Regions from separate parts of the Homo sapiens genome. Here region 2 is linked to region 1. Evidence: fine-mapped expression QTL. A gene starts in region 1. The other region holds a variant in brackets. All regions are shown on one strand. Distances are between the middles of the regions. Region 1 holds the start of SCGB1D2 (secretoglobin family 1D member 2). Region 2 holds the start of SCGB2A2 (secretoglobin family 2A member 2).

What was found. PIP is the estimated chance that this variant, and not a neighbour inherited with it, causes the effect. A credible set is the group of variants that fine-mapping cannot tell apart.
Region 2: its variant is the best candidate, but not a certain one, in a credible set for the expression of SCGB1D2 in skin (TwinsUK, PIP 0.54).

What each region holds. Positions count from the first base shown.
Region 1 is chr11:62,239,059-62,244,438 of GRCh38, reverse strand. SCGB1D2 (secretoglobin family 1D member 2) reads right to left here and starts at 2,200. Exons shown (of 3, transcript NM_006551.4): 1 at 2,077-2,200; 2 at 963-1,150. The coding sequence starts at 2,131.
Region 2 is chr11:62,269,321-62,274,700 of GRCh38, reverse strand. SCGB2A2 (secretoglobin family 2A member 2) reads right to left here and starts at 4,543. Exons shown (of 3, transcript NM_002411.4): 1 at 4,430-4,543; 2 at 3,633-3,820; 3 at 1,541-1,744. The coding sequence starts at 4,484. The coding sequence ends at 1,706. The variant TC/C (reference allele first, on the strand shown) is at 2,445.

The sequences.
Region 1 (5,380 bases):
AGGCCCAGGATCCTCATGGAAGCAAGTGACGAGGGTTGGAGAGAGCAGCAAGAGGTTATTGCCTGGGCTGTCCCAGGGCTTGGAGTCTCCTGGTTCCTGCAGTGAGGGACCCAGGACTGAGAGGCTGGTCAGGGCTGAGAGGGCTTCTGGGAAGCTTGGCTTCCAGGAGACTCCAGCCTCCCCATGTGGGAATTCTGCCTCAGGGCCCGAGCACCTCTCAGTCCCGAGCCTGCAGCTTCCATGAGCATTTGCAGCTAAACCTCAGGACAGCAACTCAGAGGCAGCCAGGCAGAGAGGCCCCTGGAAAACCTCTGATTTCTTGAGAAAGACAGAGTGAGAACATCCCGCTTCCATGGCACTGCAGGAGGTAGACTAGCTAGGGTCTTGGACGACTGGCCATGGTCAGGAGAGTGTCGTGGGTGTGGAGGGGAGTATGGGGTCTCAGGAGCTGGGAGGGGCTCCTTCCTGGCTCTGCAGAAGCTGCAGAGAAGTCCAGCCTGCCAGTGCTACATCTGCAGGAGCCCCTGCTCTATGTCCCTCCCTGCCTTCCTCTCCCTGTTCAAGGCTCCCATGCTCCCCAGGACATTCCACAGTGACTGTGTCCATTACATGAGGGCAGTTTGGTCTCAGGAAAGCTCCCAGCAGCGAGGCGGCCATGCTTGGCCCTTTACCATTTCTGCCTGGGCCCAGGCTCACTCCCCATGTCCTCAGCACACTCTGGGGACATGGCATCCAGGCAGGTGACATGAGAAGGAGGAACATGCAGGAGGCTGTGTGCAGCTGAGTTGAATTCTGCAGGTGAAATGGTGGCACCCACCCTGTGGCCCCAGGTGACCTTCTCAAGAGGTGACCAGCAAGGCAGCTGCCCCACCACCTGTGTCCCCAACAGAGCAGCAAGCTGACCTCACTTCATACTGTGCAGCTGACCAGAAGCCTTAACAAATAAAGGAGAAAGAAGTTACCAGGACTTCCGCAATGAGGCTTCGTTTCTGAAGGGACATCTGATCCGTGCATCTCTTCACTCCTAACTTGGCTGCAACAGCTTCCGGAGGGGCATCAAATTTGGCAAGACTTAACTTGAACAGAGGTTCACTAATGAAGAAGAAGTCTAACAGCTCAGAAACAAGAGCTGGGCAGAACTCGGCATTGGCTGCAGCAAAAGAATAAAAATATAGTTGATGTTAGGAAAGTCGATTTTTCTCTTTGGCTCCCTGACGTTAGACCAGACAGGATCCCCTGGGTTATATGTTCACATACATTTGTTGTGCTGATGACAATGCCAGACCCTTCAGGTGTGACTTCCTCAAGCTCTCACAATAAAGGAAAGCACTTCATATCAACAGCCAAACTCTTTTTTTTCCCTTTGTCACCCAGGCTGGAATTCAGTAGCTCAATCATGGCTCACTGCAGCCTCTACCTCCTGGGCTCAAGCGATATCCCCATCTCAGCCCCCTAAGTAGCTGAGACTACTGGTGCATGTCACCACGTCCAGCTGATTTTTCATATTTCTTTTGGTAAAGCTGGAGTTTCGCCACGTTGCCTAGGCCGGACTCAAACTCCTGAGCTCAAGCAATTCACTCTCCTTGACCTTCCAAAGTGCTAGGATTACAGGCATGAGCCGCCATGCTTAGCCCACAGCTAGACTCTTTTGACAGTATTAATCTTTCTTACTCCATTCTCATAGCCTCTCCTGGCAGAAGCGCTAACTACCAGTGATAGGAGGAGGCTCAGGGAGGGTGAGCATTGTGCCCAAGGTCAAAGGGCTGGGAAGTGGCGGATCCCAGATTCACCCCAGACCTCACATTACATCATCTGACACAGATCCCACCCAGGAGTGAAGCTCAGGCAGAAGAATTCCTAATATTTGCCTGCACTGATTTTCAATAAAACTTCGTAGGTGCTGGGGAGTAGAAGAAATAGCTCTGAACTTGATGAGGGGCTTGTTCAACAAGCACAGAAAAAGGTTTGGAATTTTGGTTTTGTGCAGATCCTAACCCCAGCCTGAATAGGTGACCTCGTGCTTGGAAGAGGGTGCTTCCCAGGGGCTGGAGCTAGACTCATGACTGATGTACTCACCCTGGTAGCAGCAGAGGGCCAGCGTGACCAGCAGGAGACACACCGACAGCTTCATGGTGGCTTGTTTTGCTGTGAGCTCAGCTTTCACAAACAATGAGTGATTTGGACTCCACCCCAGGAGCCTGTGGAGCTGCAGAGCCCAGGGCTATTTGTACCTAGGGAGTCTAGCTGGTACTGGTCATGAGGCCTGGCTCCCAGCCCACCTCTCCTTCCCAGGGCTGTTGCCATCCATCTGTGTCACCTCCCCACGCCTCCCTGCACTCTGACTGGGGCAGAGCACAGGAGGGTAGCCCTGCAGGAACTCTGCTCTGTGTTCCAGGTGAATGTTCAGGCACCTCTGGAAATATTCCTGGGATTCTGTTTCCTTCTGAGTTTTGCTGATTATTTTTTTTCTTTGTATCAGTTCAAGGGCACAGGTAAATTCTGACTTTGGAAGGCACAGGAAGCTGGAAGGCTGTGTTCTGGTTATGGGGGAGCAGGGACATAAGGAAACCCTGCTTTGATCCCCCTGCATGTCTGACAACCAGTAGGCTTGTTTCAGTTGCACATTGAGCAAGTCTAAACAAGACCTATTCCCCTCAGCCCCTCCCATCACCACCATGTTCACTGCATAGGTACCTAAAACCTAGTTCAATGCATCTTACCTTTGGAGGATTTCCTGGGGAAAAGCAACTGCTGCACCTGTTCTCTAGCCTGTCTCACTCCCAAACCTGAGTCTTGTTTATGAGTGCAGCTATAAATATGGCCAAGACTCACATTTTCTCTCTACGAGGAGCAAGCTTTCTGTGATGTGTAGCCACCCACATGTTGATGGGTTGACCTGATGATTACATAGCCTAACTTTTTCCAAGTAGCTTTTGGAGTGTCCAGAGCCAATCATGCATCGGACAGGTACTGAGAGTTCTTTGCTCTGGGGCTCCAGGAGGGGAAGAAGATGGAAAAGAAGAGACAGATGATCAGGGTGAGTGGTCACTTCCCCCCAACCTCTAGGCTCAAGTTTTCCACTTCAAATCTAGCTGTGCAGCCTGAGCCAATCCCATTTTTAATAGAAAGGGAAGGAAGCACCCAGACAAAGCAATACACACCCTCCTGCCCTCCTGCTGTGATGCCTTTGTGTGGTGTGAGCAGGAAATCAATCACTAGAAATTTCTCTCTCTTTTTTGTTATTATACTTTAAGTTTTAGGGTACGTGTGCACAACGTGCAGGTTAGCTACATATGTATACATGTGCCATGTTGGTGTGCTGCACCAATTAACTCATCATTTAACATTAGGTATATCTCCTAATGCTATCCCTCCCCCCTCCCCCCACCCCACAACAGTCCCTGGTGTGTGCTGTTCCCCTTCCTGTGTCCATGTGTTCTCATTGTTCAATTCCCACCTATGAGTGAGAACACGCGGTGTTTGTTTTTTTGTCCTTGCGATAGTTTGCTGAGAATGATGGTTTCCAGCTTCATCCATGTCCCTACAAAGGACATGAACTCATCATTTTTTATGGCTGCATAGTATTCCGTGGTGTATATGTGCCACATTTTTTTAATCCAGTCTATCATTGTTGGACATTTGGGTTGGTTCCAAGACTTTGCTATTGTGAATAGTGCTGCAATAAACATACGTGTGCATGCGTCTTTATAGCAGCATGATTTATAATCCTTTGGGTATATACCCAGTAATGGGATCGCTGGGTCAAATGGTATTTCTAGTTCAAGGTCCCTGAGGAATCGCCACACTGACTTCCACAATGGTTGAACTAGTTTACATAATCATGTGATTTTTTCATTGGTTCTGTTTATATGCTGGATTACATTTATTGATTTACGTATGTTGAACCAACCTTGCATCCCAGGGATGAAGCCCAATTGATCATGGTGGATAAGTTTAATGCCCACAAGAGAAAGCAGGAAAAATCTAAAATTGACACCCTAACATCACAATTAAAAGAACTAGAGAAGCAAGAGCAAACATATTCAAAAGCTAGCAGAAGGCATTGAATAACTAAGATCAGAGCAGAACTGAAGGAGATAGAGACACAAAAAACCCTTCAAAAAATCAACGAATCCAGGAGCTGGTTTTTTGAAAAGAGCAACAAAATTGATAGACCACTAGCAAGACTAATAAAGAAAAAAAGAGAGAAGAATCAAATAGATACAATAAAAAATGATAAAGGGGATATCACCACCGATCCCATAGAAATACAAACTACCGTCAGAGAATACTATAAACACCTCTATGCAAATAAACTAGAAAATCTAGAAGAAATGGATAAATTCCTCGACACATACACCCTCCCAAGACTAAACCAGGAAGAAGTTGAATCTCTGAATAGACCAATAACAGGCTCTGAAATTGAGGCAATAATTAATAGCCTACCAACCAAAAAAAGTCCAGGACCAGATGGATTCACAGCCGAATTCTACCAGAGGTCCAAGGAGGAGCTGGTACCATTCCTTCTGAAACTATTCTAATCAATAGAAAAAGAGGGAATCCTCCCTAACTCAATTTATGAGGCCAGCACCATCCTGATACCAAAGACTGGCAGAGACACAACAAAAAAAGAGAATTATAGACCAATATCCCTGATGAACATCGATGCAAAAATCCCCAATAAAATACTGGCAAACCGAATCCAGCAACACATCAAGAAATTTCTCTCTTAAATGAACTTACTTTTGAGAGGATTCACAGCCTAGGCCCGAGCTTTCCATTCGCAGCTGCGCAATCGAATCACTTGGAGCTTTTAAAATATACTGACTCCCCAGGTTTCTCTCTCTGGGGATTTTGATTCAGTAGCGTTGGGTTGACTCCCTGATTCCTACACTGTTTAAACTGCTCTGGTGTTTCTGATGGGCAGGAGGGCTGAAAACCACACAGAAAGACATGTATGTAAAGAGGGGACCTTATGGGCTGTGTCATCAGAGACAACTTGGCAGGTTTGTTTGAGCCCCAGCTGAGGGCAACAGTGGCTGTCACTTCCATCACACAGGATCATGAGGAAATCCCTGAGCCAGCTCTTCCGCCACCACCAAGGAGTGGGAGGGCCAGTGGTGAGGCTCACAGATACAAGGCTCACAGATACAGCCTCATTTGTGGGCTCTTGGACCTTAAGAAAATTATTCAGCTTATGTAACCTCAGTTTTCCTATTTGTCAAAGTAGGCTAGTAATTGTGCCTACATCATTGGGTTCATAGATGATCAAATGAGTGTGTTCATGGGGGTGTGTGTGTTTAAAGTTAACTAAGTTCTGGTACATAGTAGTTCTCAATAAATTCTAACTCCCATTATCTTGTCCCACTTGTCATATATG
Region 2 (5,380 bases), 30 kb before region 1:
CTCCACCCTTACCAGACTCTGAGCCACTCAGGAATTATTCCCCTTCTTAATCCAGACATGGTCTTTCATTCGTGAAGCAGCAAATGAGGCCATGCCTCTCCCTGTTGACACCTCCTTGTCCTCTCAACATAACTGTTTTGCAGGCACAGACACCTTTCCAGACAATCCAGATGATGCTCCTGCTACAATGACATGGTGGATACCAACCTGTCTCTCAAGAATAGCCCCAAAATTAAGTTTTTCTTTTTCCAAGGTGCCCATGCCACCCCATGTCACACCTGAAGTGGTTATTGAGAAAGTCGTCCTTTTTCCATAACCAAATAGACAGCAATGTAAAATTCTCCCCAGGGCCTGAAAGCTTAAGGAGATGAGCTCCCCACTTCTCAGGCTCAGTCCCAAGGCACAAGGCTACTTGTGCTAGTGGGGTGCACCAGCAAGATAGCAGAAGCAGGAAGAGAGCCGGCCGGAAGACACATACCCCTGAAGACGGAGAAAGAGGCCATCCAGATATAACATAGCAGTTACATCAGACTAGGACACTTCCTGTTTACAGGAGACTATAAAACCTTTGCACCATCCTCACTTAAGGCTGATGCCACTTTAGGCCTCAGCCCTCCTGCTTCCAGGCGCTCATTAAAACAGCATGTTGCTCCACACTGCCTCGTGTTGTCTGTTGGTATGTTCTTGGGGTTCGAGCCGATACAAAAACCTTACAAGGGGATAGCCTCAGAAAGAAGAGGGACAGGCTGAGGTAGAAGCAGAACAGGTGGCAATAACTGCCCCTGGTGACAGGAATGCTGGGGACAGGACATGAAAGAGACTCCAGGTTCCATGTAAACATCCCCTGCTGTGCTGGGTCCCTGCACAGCACACTCACTCCCCTCAACCCTCATTGCCTTTGCAGCTCACTGCGGGACAGCGGAGGATGGACCCCAGTCCCACCACAGGCACAGGACTAGAGGACATTGAAAATCTTAATAGGGGTACTGTTAAACTCAGTAGTCATATTGCATAGGATTCAAATAATAACATAATATGGTTAAAAATAATATTTTCCTGTAGTAGTTTATAAATTAAACTGAAGCCAACATCCATGATGAGTAAAAATTACAAAATTTAAACCCAGTCAGGTGCCACCCTGCTTTGCAGGACTCCTCTCCCTGGCTGGCTCTGGCCCAGGCCCTGCACATCTCGGGGAGGCCCAGAGACAGCGCAGAGAAGCCTGACATGGCCAGCAGGGCTCAGCGTGGATGGGAGGACTGGAGTGAAAGCAGGTCCTCTGAGTGAAACCCTGCCTCACATCCCAGAGCCTGAGGACTCCAGAGAGAGTCGACGGGGGAGGTGGTGGGATGGGGACAGGGAAACACTCTTCAGAGAGAGTACCAAGGCTTAGAGGTCAGACTGAGGAAACAAATGCTTCACAGAGTCCTCAACCCATGACCATGAGTTCTTTAATAAGTAAGTGTGTGTGTGTGTGTATGTAAAATATGTGAGGCCCTCTAACGCCTCTTTTCTACGGTAGAACAAAGAGAAACTTCAGTTTTTGCCATCAATTTATTAAAATAAACATGTATAGCAGGTTTCAACAATTGTCTTGTAGTTTGTAGTAAAAAGACATAAGAAAGAGAAGGTGTGGTTTGCAGCAATCCGTAGTTGGTTTCTCACCATACCCTGCAGTTCTGTGAGCCAAAGGTCTTGCAGAAAGTTAAAATAAATCACAAAGACTGCTGTCATATATTAATTGCTAGAAAGCAAAAACAGAGACATCACTTAGATTTTCTGCACTCTCTAACAAAATAAAATCTTGAAAAACAGAAGCTTATCTTTTTCCACGGTTTGCCCACAACCATCTAGCATCCCAGACGGTTAGGGCTGGAAGTAGAAGAGCTGTTGTTTCTGGATCATTTCCCCCACCATGGACTTTTTAAATATTTTTTCTGTGTGTTTGTGGTTCTTTGAAATAATGTATTCAACAAATACGTGACTATATTACCTATTTTCACAGGATTGTTAAAATCTTAGCTCAAATGCAAAAAAAAAAAAAAAAAAAAAAGTGAAACTTTGAGCTCTCGTCTAACCCTCCATTGTGGAAATATTCCCAGCATCCCAGCAGTCCGACGCCCTCTGCCACCACCATTGTGCTCTACTAATTATTGGAGCTGCAGACTATGATCTGTCTGAGGAAGCTTTTAAAGAAACAAATCCATCACCCTTCCCTGCAGTTGATAATTAGTTTTTAACAAATTATTAATAGTGGTAAAATGTACATCTCATAAAATTTGCCATTTTAAGGGGACAGTTCGGAGTGTTCTGTATATTCGTGTGGTTGTGCAACCTAACTCCAGAATATTACTGTTTTGCACAACTGAAACTCCAGACCCATTAAATATGACTCCCCCTTCTTCTCTGCACCCAAGCCCTGACAACCACTGTTTTTTTTTTTT[TC/C]ACTGTCTCTGAGTCTGGCTCCCCAGATTCCCATATGCATGGGTCATGCAGCATTTGTGTTTTTGTGACTCTTTGCTTCACTCTTCACTCGCTATAATATCCTCAAGGTTCATCCATGTTGTAGAAAGCGTCAGGGTTTCCTGAGGTGATGTTCACTTTCATCCTAATGGAGGGGTTTGGTATATTTCTAACTTTTTTTTTTTTTTTTTTTTTACCAGGGAAGGATTAAAGAAGAATTTAACATAGGGAATAAATGCTAAAGAAAACCCTCAACAATATACATGTATAGTTAGAAAGAAATACAAAACTATTGGTTTTTGTTTGAGGCAATTCTTCCTCCATGGTGGTTTCATACCCATGATCTACAGTTGCCTATTGGATAGTCCAAGGTTTCTCATCATTTATGCTAGCAAATTATGATTGCCTGGAAGTGCATTTTAAATTCTTTTTATTTGAGATGTATAGAATCTTGCTCAAATGGTATTTTCCAAACTGTTGAAAAATAGGGCATTTTTTAAGAAAGAACACTTTTACTTTTTTTTGAAGAAGAGAAGTTTTCTCTGCAGATTGGTCTATAGGTGCGGGTCTTCTGGAAAATTGTTTTTTCTGTAGAGAGTGAACATATGTTTGTATGTGTGTGTCTGAGTGTGTTTGTGTGTGTCTCTGTGTTTCTGTGGTTGTGTGGTTCTGTCTGTGTGTTTGTGTTTGTGTCTGGATGATTGTGTGCTGGTGTGATTGTGTCTGTGTCTGTGTCTGTGTCTTTGCCTGTCTGTCTATGTTTGTGTATGTCTGAATGTGTGTGTGTTTGTGTGATTGTGACTGTGTCTGTGTGTTTGCATGTGTCTGGATGTGTGTATGTGTGTTTCTGTGTTTGTGTGATTGTGTCTGTGTTTGTGAGCATGAATTAGAGAGCTCTGGGGATAGGTAAGACTTCTACCGACCTTTCCTTTTCCTCTCTTGCCCTATTCATTTATCATCCACTGAGGATTCTCTGGGTAGAGTGACAACACAGGGACACTGGATGTTTTTCTTGATGGCAAAGTCATTAGACTAACCATTCAACTAAATTAACCAATGTAAGAAAAGGCTTGTTCACTAGTGGCTTTGGCATTGTCAGTGAGAAATGAAGAGCCCACTTGTCCCTGGTCAGGGGATTTAAAAAGCTTATAGGAAGAAAATGAAATTACCATAAACACCTCAACATTGCTCAGAGTTTCATCCGTTTGGTTAAGAAAACATTCCTTCAATTCATCTATGGCATTTGTAGTGGCATTGTCGTCTATGAACTCTTGAAGAAGTTCTTTGTATTCAGTCTTAGACACTTGTGGATTGATTGTCTTGGAAATCACATTCTCCAATAAGGGGCAGCCAGAGCCTGGGAAGGATGCACAAGGAAACAAGCTTGGTACAGAAGGCATGAAAGGCTTGGGGCAGACCTATTACATTCCTCATCTTCTTACAGCCCAAGAGAATATAGACTCAAAGATAATGATGCAGAATCTAGAGTTCTCAAATCTGGGAGAAAACCTCAGGCTCTGGGATTTCCTGTAAGCCCTGCAACTTCTTTCTCTCCACTCCCCAGCCCAGAAAAGCTAAACCTCATGAAACTTCATTTAATGAGAAGACTTGAGAAATGAAACACTCGGACTTGGAAGTATATCGTGAAGATTATTTGGTCTTCTTTGGTTCAAAATCATACGATGCTTCACTATTACCATTCAGAGCATCACAGAAGATTTCCAAGTATCTTAGGCCAAGTGTGGTGGCTCACACCTATAATCCCAGCACTTTGGGAGGCCGAGGTGGACAGACTGCCTGAGCTCAGGAGTTCAAGACCAGCCTGGGCAACATGGTGAGATCTGTTATACCTACAGCCTTTGTACTGGGGCTGATCTCTGCTGAGAATTGGGGAGCAGGAGTTCTTCCATAGAGGCCCAAGTGACAACCCCTAACCCCGAGGCAGCCCTCCCTGCACAGAACTCACCTGCGTAGCAGTGCTGGGAGAGGGCCGCCAGCATGAGGACCATCAGCAACTTCATGGTGAGGCTGCTGCTGTCGGTGTTCAGTCGCGGGTGGCAAGGATCAAGGAAGCCGCTGTGGAGGTGAGCACCCAGCCTTGCTCTATTTATTCCCCAGGTAGGCATCTTAATTCCACCCATGAACGAGGCAATGAGTCAACCTGGCATGGGACCAGTAAACAGGAGCATGCCCCAGGGGAAACACAGCCAGCCTGTATGTAGAATCTTCCTGCTTCTCTTCCTCTTTCTTGTATTCCTTCTCCACTTGCTCCCCTTCCTTTTCTTCTCTGTCTCTTTCTTTAAGGTGAGAATGAAAGCATCATGTCCCGTGTATCTGTGCCAGCTTATCCCAGCAGTGGGCCTAGGTGCAATACCTCACACCTACTCTTGGGAGCAGGCTTTTCTCATCCACTGACATCTCATTTTCAGAAAGGGATGTCTGGGAAAGTTTTACCTTTTGTGGGGAAATTTAAGGCCATCCACCCTCCGCTGAAAGTTATTTTTACAAGGATTATCTCGGTTAATTATAAATTAATTGATAACTTTGTTTAGTTCTTTGGTAACTTTTTAGGGTTTTCTTTCCACTGATTCAAAGGATGCTGTGAATTAGTAGCGTAACTGATGGGCTGGACAGGCAGTGCTGGGTGGTGGGTGGTGATGGAATTTGGAATCAGGGATGAGGGTTTGGACCCTGGATGCAACTTGCAGTCCTGCCATGTCCTTGCTGGTCTCTCTGAGCATCCTTCCTTTTCATCACTTGAAGAAAATAAAAGGCGGAATGGGATAGCATGCAGAATTTGTATAAGGATGCTTCATGTAAAGATTGTTTCATGGCCGGTCGCAATGGCTCATGCCTGTAATCCCAGCACTTTGGGAGGCTGAGGTGGGTGAATCACCTGAGGTCAGGAGTTTGAGAC